Homo sapiens: one gene and its partners. The protein of the gene in region 4 purifies or fractionates together with the protein of the main gene of each other region. This does not show direct contact. Each region holds a gene or a part of one and is shown on either strand. Other genes may lie near its edges.

The links.
Region 1: the proteins of CD300E (region 4) and POMT2 purify together in Homo sapiens (affinity purification with mass spectrometry; one large-scale study listed by BioGRID and IntAct). This does not show direct contact.
Region 2: the proteins of CD300E (region 4) and SERPINA10 purify together in Homo sapiens (affinity purification with mass spectrometry; one large-scale study listed by BioGRID and IntAct). This does not show direct contact.
Region 3: the proteins of CD300E (region 4) and RMDN1 purify together in Homo sapiens (affinity purification with mass spectrometry; one large-scale study listed by BioGRID and IntAct). This does not show direct contact.

What each region holds. Positions count from the first base shown.
Region 1 is NC_000014.9:77,296,884-77,300,383, reverse strand, and holds part of POMT2 (protein O-mannosyl-transferase 2), read left to right. Parts: intron 1-822; coding exon 823-929; intron 930-1,612; coding exon 1,613-1,695; intron 1,696-3,500. UniProt on the Homo sapiens protein: Transfers mannosyl residues to the hydroxyl group of serine or threonine residues. Coexpression of both POMT1 and POMT2 is necessary for enzyme activity, expression of either POMT1 or POMT2 alone is insufficient.
Region 2 is NC_000014.9:94,286,769-94,290,268, forward strand, and holds part of SERPINA10 (protein Z-dependent protease inhibitor precursor), read right to left. Parts: coding exon 3,108-3,500; intron 1,792-3,107; coding exon 1,518-1,791; intron 1-1,517. UniProt on the Homo sapiens protein: Inhibits activity of the coagulation protease factor Xa in the presence of PROZ, calcium and phospholipids. Also inhibits factor XIa in the absence of cofactors.
Region 3 is NC_000008.11:86,481,187-86,484,686, forward strand, and holds part of RMDN1 (regulator of microtubule dynamics protein 1), read right to left. Parts: intron 1-3,500.
Region 4 is NC_000017.11:74,608,197-74,612,436, forward strand, and holds the end of CD300E (CMRF35-like molecule 2 precursor), read right to left. Parts: 3' UTR 1,689-4,240; downstream 1-1,688. UniProt on the Homo sapiens protein: Probably acts as an activating receptor.

The DNA.
Region 1 (3,500 bases), on a different chromosome or scaffold from region 4:
TATGAGGTAGGGAGTTATTACCCTGATTTTCAAATGAGGAAATCAAAACCTACAGAGGTAATGACTTCCCCGAGGCCATCGGGGAGTGAGAGGTGTATCTAGGAGTCACAACCAGGTTAGGTTGGCCCCAGGCCATCACTCTGCTGTGGTGCTGCTCCATCACCTCCAAACCAGCTCCTAACAAGTTTATTCATTCATTCATTCATTTATTCAGAAAATGTGTAAAGATCATCCAGCCACTGTGTGTGAGGTGCTGGAATATACAGATGAATATAATATGGTCCCCACCCTCTGTGGTCAATGGAGAGAGAGAAATAAGGAAGCAGGCAGTTACAGTCAGCCAGGAGTGCTGGGAGAGCACAGAAAAGGGCACTCGGCCAGTCCCAGGCAATCCAGGAAGGCCTCTGGAAGGAAGCCGCGAAGTTAAGATAAGGAGCCATTAGCCATGTGATGGGTTGGGCTGGGACAGTAGAGGAAGCACTGGGAAAGTTCAAGGAGGTTAGTGTACCTGGAACATGGAGCGGACTGGTGAGCAACTGTGTTGCAGATGCAGGTGCCTTGTCCTTGGCACAGTAACATCCTGGGGTTTTGGGTGTAGAGCCTGGAGAGGTAGCAGAGGGCTGGCCCATGTTTATCTTGTGTAGTGCTTGGGTGGTGGGTGTTACAGAAAGGCTTAGGGTTTCCACATATTCTTCTCTCTCCTCTTGGCCATTTTTTATGATTATGACTGATATATTAAAAGCTATATATAATGCATGCATAGTGCCTAAGGAATAATGAGGTCTCACATGCCTAGCACCCCACGCTGGCCTCTGTTTGCAGGTGACTGTGGGAAAACACCTGACTGCTCGTGTCCTGTGCCTCATAGTGCTGCCCCTGGCTCTCTATACAGCCACCTTTGCTGTTCACTTCATGGTGCTGAGTAAAAGGTACAGACAGAGCCTTTGCAGCATCTTGCTTCTGGTTTTCCTTTTGCTCCTAAGCCTGTGGAGGGGTCGGATGATTTTCTGGGTCTGTGGTTAAAATGATAGGTGAGGGACCCCAGGGGCTTTTTCCTGTTTCTTTCCTGCTATGTTCTATCCTTTGGGTATATGCTAAGGGCTCAGAAAGGCCAGCACCCTAACCTGAAGGAAGAAGCTATTTTCGTTATAGCCAAATTGTCCCTTATCTCTAAACAGAGTCCCCTGTACTTAGCAAGGATAGGCCACAATAAGATGTGCAGTAGGAGTGAGTGTAACAATAACAGTAACTCCGGCGGCAACAGCTCCCACTTAATGAGTAGCTACTGAGAATCAGGAACTGTGTTCCGCATTTTGTACACATTATCTCATTTAATCAGAATCACTTGTGACTTCTCTTGGTTTCTTTAAATCTCTAGTTTATAAATGAGGAACTAAGGCTAAACAAGGTTATCTTGCCCAAGGTCGCACAGCTAGTAAGTGGCTGAGTTGGGATTTGGACCCCAGTTTCTCCAACTCCATCACCCACCTCTGTCCCATGATCTGATTCTACTTTCCTTAAACTATCTGAGCAGAGCTCTTCCCAGCGCTCCTGGGAAATCACACTTTCACTCCTTTAACTTGACTCTCTTCTGCTCTTCCTCTCCCCACAGTGGCCCTGGTGACGGTTTCTTCAGTTCTGCCTTCCAGGCCCGGCTTTCAGGGAACAACCTGCACAATGCTTCCATCCCTGAACGTGAGTGTCTCTGGGCCATTACAAAGGTAGAAGGCAGAGGGGTGTCCTGGGAGTTGAATTGGAAAAGACAAATATGATGGCTTTGGGTTATTTTAGCCTGTGATGGCACGGTGGGAGAAAGACCCAGATAGATCTGGTGAAAATACTCGAGAGTGAATCAGGACAGAGGAGAGGAAGACATCCTGAGCAGCAAGCTCTCTGACCCTAAAGAATGACTTCTCCTTGGTGGCTCTCCAAGCCAGCTCTGTGGGAAGGTCACTCAGAGAGAATATGGTGACAGCACCAGGCCCTTCAGAGCCAGTTTTTGGTTTCCCGCACCGCTTTCTGAGTGTTGCATTCGTTCATCTATGACAGATGGTAGTGGAGCGCGTGCTCACCCTCCAGAGATGGAGCCTGGTGTAGAGGAGCTCCACACGGTGTGGCTGGAAGCGTTAAGTACGTAAAGAGGGAGCACAGCTCTGGGGATTGACAGGCGTGAAGGAGCATGGCTGCTGGGCGGTTAAGGGCATCAGAGGTTCGTGATGTGGGTTGCCTTGGAGTCAGGCCCTGGAAGAATGTGTGGCTTTCAACAGAGGAGAGGGCATCTCAGGCAGGAGGGATGACATGATCAAAGCTGAGGACAGAGTAAAACTTGAGGCACAGGTATATGCAGAAAACTACTGGAAGATAAATGTGAAAAGTTAGGTTGGGCCCAGACTATGAGGGTTTGAGGTGTCTGGATGAGGTATTTGACTTCCTAAAACAGGCCGTGGAGACCTAGTGGAGGTCTTTGAGCAGCCAGGAGGCCAGGAAGGCTGTGCTATAGGGAGATGACATGGGTGGGAGAGTCGAGGCTGGCTGGGGAGGGGACAGGATTGTAGGCAAGAGAAACCCTCTGGGAAGCTATTGCAGGAACCTGAGCTGGGTATGGTGGGGCAGCCACAGGGTAAGGCAAATGGGCATATACAAGGGAGATCTGGACACAGCAAGAGAGGAAGAAAGATGTCACTAAGGACTTGAGTGCAGGTGATTGCTTCCTGGAGGCAGAGACTGCATCTTACTCATTTTAGTCTTTCCAGGACTTTGCACAGTGCCTAAAATACAGCGGACTCTCCCAGACTGGGAAGAATGAGAAATAGGGAAGCAGGAGAAGAAGTTGGGTTGGAAGGGCAGATACTGAATTCCACGCGAGAGGGGTTGATAGTGAGCTGCTTGGGGAAATTGTTGCCATGGGGCCAGTGGGATTTGGGGCTGATGCTTTCAAAGGAGGAATCAGACAAGTAAAACGGTAATTGATGCTGTGGCAGTAGCTGTGATTTGTAAGGAAACTGTAGAAAGAGGAAAAGAATAGAGCTGAGGTCAGATCACTGGGGAATGCAAGAGGAGGAGGAATTAGGAGAGGAGACTGCGGAGGAGCAGCCCTTGAGAGAGTGTGCGGTCGAGAAGTGGGAACAGAGAGCATTTCAAGAAATAAAGGTGGTCAGCCATGTGCAGGGCTGCCGAGGTTGGCCTGCCTGAGAACTCAGAAGAACACAGCTGTGGAGTTTAGCAAATTCCTGCTCATTATTTAAAGGCCTAGTTCAGCTGTCACCTCTTCGATCAAGTCGTCCTCTCTTTAATCCTTGGGAGAGAATTTGGCCTGTTCCGAGTTCCCACCATTCCCACCATGTCACACATTGTCACGCCTTTGTGGGGCACTTGCCCACTGTCCTATACTTGTCAGTGTGTGAAGCCATCTTCCTTGTAGACAGGGCTCTTCCAGGGCCACAGGCAGGCCTCCTCCACCTTTGGATCCAGTGTGTAATTCTTCTGGTCCACTGAATGAA
Region 2 (3,500 bases), on a different chromosome or scaffold from region 4:
AAATAAAATTTTTTTATTTATTTAAAAATAATTGAGGACATGACGTGTCTTGAAGATTAATTTAAAAAGTTATTCATTCAGCAAACATTACTTGAGGGCTTATGATGTTTGGGGTTCATTGTTAGGTGCTAAAGATATGAAGAAAAATGAAAGAAGAATAATGAAGATAAAACTAACCCTGGGGACCTTTAGCTGCACTTGTCTGCCAAAATCTGAGTCACAGGATTCAGAAGCCATAGCCATGGAATTCGTATTGCAGCCATTTTCCTTGTACTCCAATAGGTGGATTAATTTATTGGGCAGACATTTCAGTGCCCACTCTGTGCTTTCTTTTCCTCTCCTCTATATTTACAGACCCCAACCCTGTCATGTGTCTAGATTCTAGTTCTGTGTTGATGACCGAATTTATATCTCCGGCCTGGACCTCACCCTAGACTCCAGATCCACCTGTCGTCTTGACATCTCAACTTGGATGTCTAATAGATATTTCTGATCCAAGTGTTTAAGACTGAACTTCTGCACTTACCCCAGACCTGTTCCTCCCCCTTTCAGTAAATGGCAAATCCGTCTTTCCAGTTGCTAAGGCCAAAAACTTTGTGATCACCTTTGACACCTCTCTCACCCACATCCAATCGATTAGCAGATCCTGCACTTCCTAATAGATCCAGAATCCAGCCACTTCTCACCACTTCCACTACCACCACCGCAGTCCAGGTAGCAGCATCTCTACCTGGATTGCTAGTAACTTTCTAACCACTCTCCCTTGCTTCCATCCTTACCCCCTAGTGTCTTTTCTCAACACAGGAGCTTATGTGATCCTTTAAAAACAGAAGTCAAAATCAGGTTGCTCCTCTACTCAGAACCATCCAGTGGCTTCCTGCCTCTCTCAGGAAAGCCCAAGTCTTTTCTGGGGACTGGGCCCCTGTTTCCTCTCTGATTTTATCTCCAACTGCTGAAGCCACACTTGTCTCCTTGATGTTCTTCAAACCCACCAGGTACACTCCCATCCCAGAACTTGTACACTTCTGCCTGTAACATAACACTTCTCTCCCCGAATATATCCACATGGTTTATCCTTCATCTTCAGATGTTTGCTTACTGTTACCTTCTTGGAGAGGCCTTGTCTAACCTCCATCTGCATCCTGATGATGCTTCTTGTCCCCTTCCCTGCATTATTACCTATTTTTAATTTACTCTTTGTCTTCCTTCAATAGAATGTAAGCTGCATGAGGGCAGACTAATTTTGCCTGTTTTGTTTGCTGATGGATCCCTGGCATCATATATTTATCACAGTCGCAGAACGTAAAATACTGATGGACTCAATGAATGAATCAGCCAGGCACCCTGTGACAGATGCTGGGGATAGAGTGGAAAAAAAGACAAATGCTGCCCTGCCTTCAGGAAACTTATAGCTCACTGGAGGAGACATTAAATCACGGTGCATTCAATGAAATTGTGCTGAGCGTTTGCCAGTACAGAAAGGTAGAGTTTGTATAGGGTGTGGGCAAGAGTTGTACCTGGTTTTCATGTTTCTGAGCCATGTCTCCACCAAGTCTGTGGTCAGGTAGTCTTCAAGGGCGAGGTGGTCACCCATTTTCTCCATGAGGACCACCAGCATGGTGGCATTTCCTTGGTAGGGCAGTTTGAGGACATGACAACGAAAATTCTTGTCAAAGGTGGAGGCAAACTTGCCTGCACCGTACATCATGGGCACCTTAATGGTCTTGTACTTGTCCAGGTGGAAAGTGTCGACTTCGGTGAAGACAGGGTCAAATGGGGTCAACCATTTCCCTGAACAAGTAAGAGAAGAACTCATTGCAGAAATTCCCTCTTTGAAAAGCATTGTTCTTGCTCAAATAATAGAGAGGGAGCCTTCTATCTCACTTCTCTCACTTCTCGTCTTCTCGTTCCAACTAGGAAAGGCGTTCCCTAATTGGGTTGGCTTTTCCACAGCTCAGGCAGGCAAAATAAATTTCCCCAAAATTTTCCCCGTCCTCTAGCCCAGCTAGCAAAATGCAGCTCCACTCGCAGGCCCTATTGGGAATCGCACACGAAAGCAGGGAAATGTTTCCTAACAATCCCTGGCTCCTCTCATTGTCCTGGACCTGAACGGAATTCACAGTCGTTCCCTCATAGTTGGCTCCAGCTTAGAGAAAAGCCTTTGCCTGGCACCTCTGACTGCCACTTTGTCTCATTCACACCAGGCACAAGCACATGCAGAGTCCAAGGTGGCAGGAGTGACACTTCTCACCCACCCACTGTTTAGTGTGGTTCTGAGAGAAGGCCCCACAATGCAGAGGCTACTAGCAGGCAGGTACATTACTCTCTACATAAACGTCTGCCCTGGGGGTGTGGCCTGGCTGGTTGTAAAGTGGCTTCCCCTGCCGGGGCTTTGTAAGTCTGGTGCCAGCTCTGCGAAAGTGGCATCCAACCCACGTCCAGTGCCCCATTAGGGAGGCAGGGCTGGACAGAACCTAGGATCAGGGGGTCAGGAGGCCCTTGTTTGGGTTTTGCCTCTGCCACTTACTGTGTGACCTTGATCAAGCTAACGTCTCTGAGCTGGTTTCATCTTTAGAAAGGAGACAACTCCTGCTCTACCTGCTGATTGGCAGTTTGGAAGAACAAGTAAACAATAGATACTCAGTGTCTGCTATGTGCCAAGCCCATCTGGGCACTTTACATTCATTGTCTCATTTAGCCTCTAACACTGTAGTAGGTGGAGTGTCCCTATTTTCTATAATAGGAATCTAAGGGCAGAGAGTTGGTCAAAAAGTAAAAATGAAGGAGCAATGATGCAATCCTAAATCCCCCAGATAATCCCCCAGCCCCCTGTTTTTTGGAAAGACCCTATGCTTCTAAGTGTCAGAGGGGAGCTATGTAGAGTGCTCTGAAAATAATAAGGACTACAAGCACATAGGATACCAGGGAAGGGCCTCAAATGACAGCGTCTGGCACTGTTCAATATGTGTATCAATCTGTTTTTGAAACGTGAAAACACATTCATAGAAAATCACGTAGCGTTAATCATATGCTGGCCTAACGAAAGGAAAGGGAGAGACAATCGTAGGGCCCTGTGGCCTTGGGAGAGCAGAACATTATCAAAGTACCTTTGAACAAGATGTAATCCACAAGAATTAATTTGGTTTCAGGATTAATCTCATCAAACAGTTTGGGAATTTTCCCCCGAGTCTCTTTGTTAATGTAATGATTCATGAGCCTTTTGGCCTGTGAGGCATTGCGAAAATTCATAGGCACGCACTCTGTATCAAAATACCTCTTGGATAAATTGAAGAAAGTCTCTTTGACATCAAAATCCTTGTGGATGAAGGCAAAACTCCCCTGTGTGAGGCCCAGTTCCAGGTTGCGGGAGAGGGTCTCTCTGAGTCCCTTAAAGAGGGAAGGCAGGAGCCCGGGCTTGGTGGGCTTCAGGGCCTGCAAGTGGAGCCCTCTCTTGATCTGGGTTTCAGTCGGCCCTGTGGCCCCCAGCATCAAGCCTGTCA
Region 3 (3,500 bases), on a different chromosome or scaffold from region 4:
GCATGGTCTCTGAAACCAGACTGCCAGGATTCAAGTCACAGCTTAATGACCTTGAACTGGTTGCAAGATCTATATTCTTACCACAACTGAGTTTTTTCTCTTTTATGGAAAAGTCATGTACTTAACTCATAAGGTTGTGGTAAAAAATAAATAAGTATCTTAACATGTTTATATGCAACTTATGCTCTAAGCAACCTTTCTCAATTGGGAGTTCCACTAAAAATTAAGCCCTACAAAAAAATTGTGTAAGTAACTATTTTTTTCTATTTCCTAAGAATGATACAGAAATACTGTAGTCCCATTCTAGATGCATAGGAAGGAAGTTAATTCATCACAATGGATGCCTGGGGGGATCAGGGTTTAATTAATTTTCCTTTTTTTTTTTTTTTTTTTTTGCCTTTGCCAAAATAAGGTTTTATTTTGAAAGTCATTTGAAAAACACTGAGGAAGGAAGGAGAAGACCTAAGACCCAATGGATGTAGGTTCCAAATTTGGATTCTTGCTGGCCCCACCAATGGTCTCTGTCAGGCCAAGAAGGTTCTGCTTTCTTTGGTAATTCCTATTTTTTTAGCTTCCTGGAGAAGAGATCTTTTCCCACAAGCCATCTTCATTTTTTTTGTAGAGTAGGGCTTTATTTCCAGGAAACAGTGTGTTAGTTGGAGCAGTATTTTTTTTTAAAAACATCAAGGTAGATCTAATATGTTCAACAAAGTGGGGTGGCTCGGCCAGACACGAAGTGGAAAGATTCTCTAGTATTTGCTTGTCATCTTGCTGCAAGCAGAAATCCACATGTGGAAATGGTGTCCAGGAGTACAGTCCTATACGAAGTTGTTCTGTCTTTGCATCGTAAATGCTAATCACTGGTCCTCCTGCTAAAGCTCACGCGGCACGCAGCTGCTCCTCTGGACCTCGATCTTGAAAGGAGGCTCTGTAGGCCAGGCACGGTGGCTTATGCCTGTAATCTCAGCATTTTGGGAGGCTGAGGTGGGCAGATCACTTGAGGTCAGGAGTTTGAGACCAGCCTGGCCAACATGGTGAAACGCTGTCTCTACTAAAAATATAAAAATTAGCCAGGTGTGGCAGTGGGCGCCTGTAATCCCAGCTACTTGGGAGGCTGAGGCAGGAGAATCACTTGAACCCTGGAAGCAGAGGCTGCAGTAAGCCGAGATCACACCACTGCACCCCAGCCTGGGCAACAGAGGAGACTCTGTCTCAAACAAAAAAAAGAAAGGAGGCTCTGTAAATCTTTGCAGTCTTAAGTTGACAGCAATGCCATATATTATTAGAAAGTGTTATTCGTTTTCTTCCTGGTCATTTAATTCTGTCACACATAATCATAGTATCACTAAGTGAATGTCATCTTCTTGCCTGTCAAATTCACTAAGAAGTTAATGAGTGAGTTTTTGTGACAACTGCCTCCCACATCACTGAAGCCTCCCACGAGGTATACTTCCAGGCTTCCACATTGAGCGCAGTCGGAAAAAGACTTTATGGAGTTCATGATCAAGGGGACCCCAGCTTTGGTGTCGGTTCCATCACAATGTGTCAAGCAGGTGGCGCCATAACCTGTGTGCAACAGGACCCCAATGTGACAAGTAGTGGCATTATCAGAACCCAAAATGGAGACGGAGCCATCCTTTGGGGAGGTCACTGCGAGCTCTCTTTGCTGAACATACAGAAGGCCCTGGGGTCCCAGTTGTTGAACAGACTGACCTCTGATACATCTGGCTGTTTCCTCCAGAGGCAGGTGGGCTCGGACGAGGTCCCCGGCGGACTGTGGCAGCCGCACTCGCTGCCCCTCGATGAGCAGTGGCATCGTGGAGGCAGCCGCCCAGGCCAGGGTTTAATTTTCTTATGAGAAGGGTTGAGAGGGGTACTTTCAAGCAAACTCTTTTATAATCAATCCTTCCTGCCACTGGTCTTTCAAAAATAATCCAAAGATGTTACCACTTTAGATATATAATGGAATTTGAAATGTAAGCAGTATAAATGATCTTTTTTATATGTAAATACTAAATATTGCCATTTAAAATATAAACATGTACATTTGAAAGCTTATATAAAACATTGTTTTTTATAATCTATAACCTTCACTGTTTTTTAAAAAAATGGAAAGTATACATTTGTGTATTTTCTACAGTTCTTCATTATTCCCTTTGGAAGTTATGTCATGTATTTCTACATCCTGAGGCACAGAGAAATTAAGCAATTTATCTAATGCCACTGAGAAAATTACTGTATTTCCCTGAATCTAAAATATCAAAAATGACACACCATTAGTTTATGTGCCACTAAGAAAGAAAGTATCACTGCCAACTACAATGTAAGGTTCCAGCAATTACATCATGTAATCTCATTTCAAGGATTTTAAACTGTGAAACAGGTAAATTGTTACATTATAAAATGTCAGTTATTATGTATATATTACTATCCATACCTGAACAAGAAAAGCTAGGTCTCTGGACTCCCAGTCATTCTTTTTCACTAGTTGTTATATAAACTAGGAATTGACACTAAACCATAAAATTATGAAAAACTATTTAAATAGCAAATTCAGCACTATCCCTATGTATGTTTCCATCATTTTTCCTTCCTATAATCTCAAAAGAGAAATAAATATGCTGGTATTTTTGTGGTAGTTTTTTTTTTTTTTTTTGAGACAATGAAGTTCATCCATGTTAAGAAATATACAGACTCCTATGCAATTCTTTGCACCTAACAGCTTACTATAAATAATTAACTTTAGGGGAAAATATTTTTAATAAAACACACATACAATATACACACAGATATCAATCTTAAATAGAATTATTACTACAAGGAGTGGTGTGTCAATTGTGTTAAAGACTGTTACACTGGACCACGCTTTCCATATTCAGGAACTTGTGTCAATGCTCCCCTCCCACAGAAACTGGGCTTGCCCTTGTGACTTGTTTAGATTAACAGGATATTACCAAGTGTGATGCAAGCAGAGGCTTGCTAGAACTTTGTACATTGGATCTTTTCCCATGGAACACTCATTCTTGGAAGCCGACTACCATGCTATAATGAAGGTTGAGCTAGACAACTAAGTGATAAAAAAACAAGTGAGGAGAAACTCTCATAGGTAAGAGGCCATCTTGGACACTGTAGTCTCAGCTGAGGGCCCAGGTGAATGCAGCTGTCTAAATGACCCCAGCTATACCAAGCAATGTAGAAGTGCCACTGCGCTCAGTTAACCCAAAGAATTGCAAGAAATAACAAACTGTCGGCTGGGCACAGTGGCTCACACCTATAATCCCAGCACTTTGAAAGGCCGAGGCAGGTGGATCACCTGATGTCAGGAGTTTGAGACCAGCCTGGCCAAAATGGTGAAACCACACCTCTACTAAAAACACAAAAATTAGCCAGATGTGGTGGTGTGCCCCTGTAATCCCAGCTACTCGGGAGGCTGAGGCAGGAAAATTGCTTGAACCCGGGAGGCGGAGGTTGTAGTGAGCTGAGATAGCACCATTGCACTC
Region 4 (4,240 bases):
AGAGATATAGATGGATGGATGGATAGATAGATAGATAGGTAGATAGATAGATAGGTAGGTAGGTAGATAGATAGATAGATAGATAGATAGATAGATAGATAGATAGACAGGTGAATGGATGGATGTACAATACATCTTTGGTATTAACATTTCATGAGGGGAGATATTTAGGGATATTCTTTTTTTAGGGATATTCATTGTTATCTTAGGATAACAATGAAAAAATGTTGAGAAACACTGTTCTAGTCCACAAGTTGAAACAGTCACAACCCAGCCAGACCCAAGGGGAGGGGACCTAAGCCACAACTCTTCATGGAAGGAGTATCAAGAAATTTGCAGCCATGTTTTTAAACTGCCTTGTGGAAGAATCATAATGTAGCGCCTTCATGTCACATATAAGAATAGCGGGACGTGAAGGGGTGAAGCCACCTGGTCCCCAGTCACAAGGCCAGAGAGCAGAGTTGATTCTGCCTCTGAATGGCAGCCTGGAGCTGGCCCACACAGCATCCCTGCAGGCCCATCTGTGCACTTTAGAAGGTCACTTCCCAAGCCTGCTGGGGGCACCATATGGTCCCAAGAATAAAAATGAGGCCCTGAAACACCTATCCTTTACTCAGAGGTCACAGTCCAGCAGCCATTACTTGCACAGACATGTCTTGTTTGGGTTCAGTGGGTGAATGGTTAAACAAATTATTTTACACCCATGCAATGAAATCCTGCTGAGCAATAGGAAGGAATCAGCTATTGGTTGTGGTAAGTGCAACCACTTGTATGGATCTCAAGGCTCAGTGAATTAAAAAGTCAATCTCAAAATATTACATACTGCATAATTTCATTTGTCCTCAAAAGGATGACACTGTAGAGATGGAGAACAGATTAGTGGTTTCCAGGGGACAGGAATGGGATAAGGGTGCAAATACAAGGGACAGCATGAGGGAGATCCTTGTGATGATGGATTGGTTCTGTATTTTGACGGGGGTGGTAGTTACCTGGATCTGTAAAATTGCATGGAACTCTACACAAACATATCCATAAACCAATGTATGTTAAAAACGGTGAAAACTGAACAAAGTCTGCAGTCTAGCTAACAGTATTGTAACAATGCTGGTTTCCTGGTTTGGGTCTTGTCCTACAGTTATATAATACATCACCATTGAAAGACACTAGATGAAGGATTCACAGGACTCTATGTTATATTTGCAATGTTAAGCCTATAATCATTTCAAAATAAAAGTTTCAAAAATTAAAACCTCCAGGGGCTCCCTATGGCCTCCAGAACACAATTCAAACTTCTTGGTCTGCCATGAAGCCCTTTCAGACTGAGGCTCCAGCCCCATATCTCACTCCTCCCTCACATGCACTCTGCACACATGGTAATGGTAACGTAGCTCCTGAAGGTCCTGGTATCCACCATGCTCTATGACTCTTCCCTACCATTGTCTGGGACAATCATCCCCCAGTCTTCTGCCCTATTTTTATAACTCAAGCCCTCAATTTTCCTTCTCCGCTTGGCCCTCATGGGAGTGCCTCCCTTCTGTGCCCCCACAGAGCACTGTGCAGAACCCTGACACAAATTCTAACACACCGCATCGCTATTGTTAGTCTACATCTTAGACTTCCCTTCTAAAGGAGTAGGGACTCTGCATAGTTTAAGTCCTTATCTGTAATGCCCAGAACAATGCACCATAGACACACAATAAAAGTTTATTGAATGAATGAGTAAATAAAGGGAAAAAAGAAAGGAAGAATAGGGGAAAAAAAGGGAGTAAGGGAGAAGGGAAAATTCAAAGCATGGAGAAGCCACTGTTTGTTTCTCCTGCACCTGCTGTCTGCCATCTGTCTACTCTTTCTTAACTCTTCTCTTCTGGCTTCTGCTGTCATTGCTCTGTTGATCTGCTCTTCTGAACTTCATTAGTGACCTTGTGAATGATAAGTTCAATAGCCTCCTCTCAATCCCGGTCCTCCTCCACCTCTCTAGCTCTGCTCTCCTCCTTGAAACATTCATGGCTCTTGACTTCTCATCTTCCACCTGTTTGATTCTGCTCCAGCACCTTGATCAATGTCTTCCTCCTACCCTTTGTCTTTAAATGCAGGTGCCCCGAGGGCTCTGTCCTTGGTTCTGAACTCTTCCCTCCATGTTTTCACTTCTTGCTGGGTTCCAGTTAATCTCTCTACACACATTCCTCTCCAGCCCTCAACACTCTGCTAACCCACATCTCTAGCTATCTGCTAGACCTCTCTGCCTGATGATTCCAAACACACAGAAAACTAAGCTCTGCATCATCCAAGCCTGCTCTTGACTTTCCTACTTCTGTCAATGATGCCCGATTCCTCTGGTTTTCCAGGCTTAAGACTCCGGACTCCCAGATTCTTCCTTTCAGACTTTGCTACATCTGCTAGGCAAGTCCTCCTAAAGCACATCTGCAATCCCATCTTGTTCTGCTCAAATCCATCCCACCATAGCTAATCAAAGTTTAAGTAAGAGTTGAGTCCTAAGCCTCCTGAACCTGCCACCACCTGAGTTCTTCTAGATTAGTTCCATCTGGCCTGCCACAGGAAAATTTCACTCCATTGGAATCTTAGACACATCCTACCATGAGCATCTGTATGTGAACAGTACAGTCCATTTGCTGATAGGTCTTCTATAAGTGACTATTGTTATGAAGATTATTTCCCGCCTCTCTGCTTTCACTTATGCTGTTTCTCTGTCCTCTCTCTCTCCCTGTTGCTCCATCCCTGCTCCGCTGAAATCCTATACCTCCTTCAACATCAACATGAATGTCACCTTCTTTCCCTGACCTGGCCAGCTTGGCATGATATTCTCCTCACCAACCCCCTGACATCAGGAAGCATCTCTTGTGGCTCTAGAGTTCTTCCTATGCTGTAATGACTTGGGAGCTTATCCTTCTCATAAAATGAATCATAAGCTCCTTTCTTGCTCATCATCATATTTCCCGGGTTAATATAATTAATATGGGCCTTGTTAGATTGAATTTCTCTTTCAGCATGAGTCCTGGGCCAGCCCCATCTTTCCCCTAGTCACCATGCATGATGGAGCTGGGAGCCCCACCAGAGCTCAAGTTCAGAGCACGGCAGCTCTGCCTAAGCACTCGGCACTCAGAGGGTCACTCCATGTGCTCTGGACACTGGCATCACTAGCTCAGGATGAGCTCAGGCCTGGGGGCAGAGGGGGAGCACTGGTCCAGATGTAGGTAGCAAGTGGAGATGGTGATGCTTGCTTGTGGCAGACTGTGGGAGTCCTCCCCACAAACTTTAGGGAAACAGAGTAATTGACAAACATTCAGAAAACCAACTGAGCTCATTCCCGAGCCAGGGGTCACCAGTAGTGGTGATAGCACTGTGCACTTCAAGTGTGGACAAGTATCCTTCACCTCTGTGCCCTCCATCCTGTCTTTGAAAAACGATATCTGCTCTGCCTGTGGAAAAGGTTAATTGCTAACAGGTGGTCTCAGCCAGACTTCTAAAGTGGACAGAACTGACTCTGTTGACCTTGTGCATTGGACACCTCCAGGTGGGGGAATTCCAGGAGTGATATCAGGGGCACCCACCAGCTCCTTCTCCCTTTACTGTTTCAACTCGCCCCAGAACTTTAACCTGGAGCAGCTCATCCACGGCCCACCCAGGCAGAGATGTTCTGAGCCCAGCCACACACTGCCTGGTTACAGGGAGAGAAGGGGCCTTAAAGCCAGGGAGACCCAAGGGGCGTCAGAAGACGAGAGGAGCCCTGAGCATGTGGGACACTGGGCAACTGCATGAGCAAGCTCTGCCGGGACCAAGCTCCCTTGGGGTTGTCCCAGAGAAGAGATGGAGCTCTGTGAGCCTAAAGGCTGGGGCTGTGAGGGGTGTGTCCTCAGGGAGACTCCTGTCTGCAGGAAGGAGGTAGTTATTGCCCTGGGGGAAACTGGCCTGAGAAGCATTTGTGCCAAGAAGAATGAAGGGCCAGGCTCCTCCAGAAAATTTTTTCCCTCCCTTCCTCCGTCCTTTTCTCTCTCTCTCTCTCTCTCTCGCTCTCTCTCTCTCTCTCTCTCTGTCTCTCTCTCTCTCTCTCTCTCTCTCTCTCTGAGACAGGGCTCTCTATGTTGCCCAGGCTGGCCTGGAACTCTTACGTTCAGCCGATCCTCCTGCCTCAGCCTCCTGAGCTGGGATTATAGGCACTCGCTATGGTGCCCGGCCAACTTCCAGGGAATTCTTGCCCTTGGGAAGTGGGCATGAGGGCAGG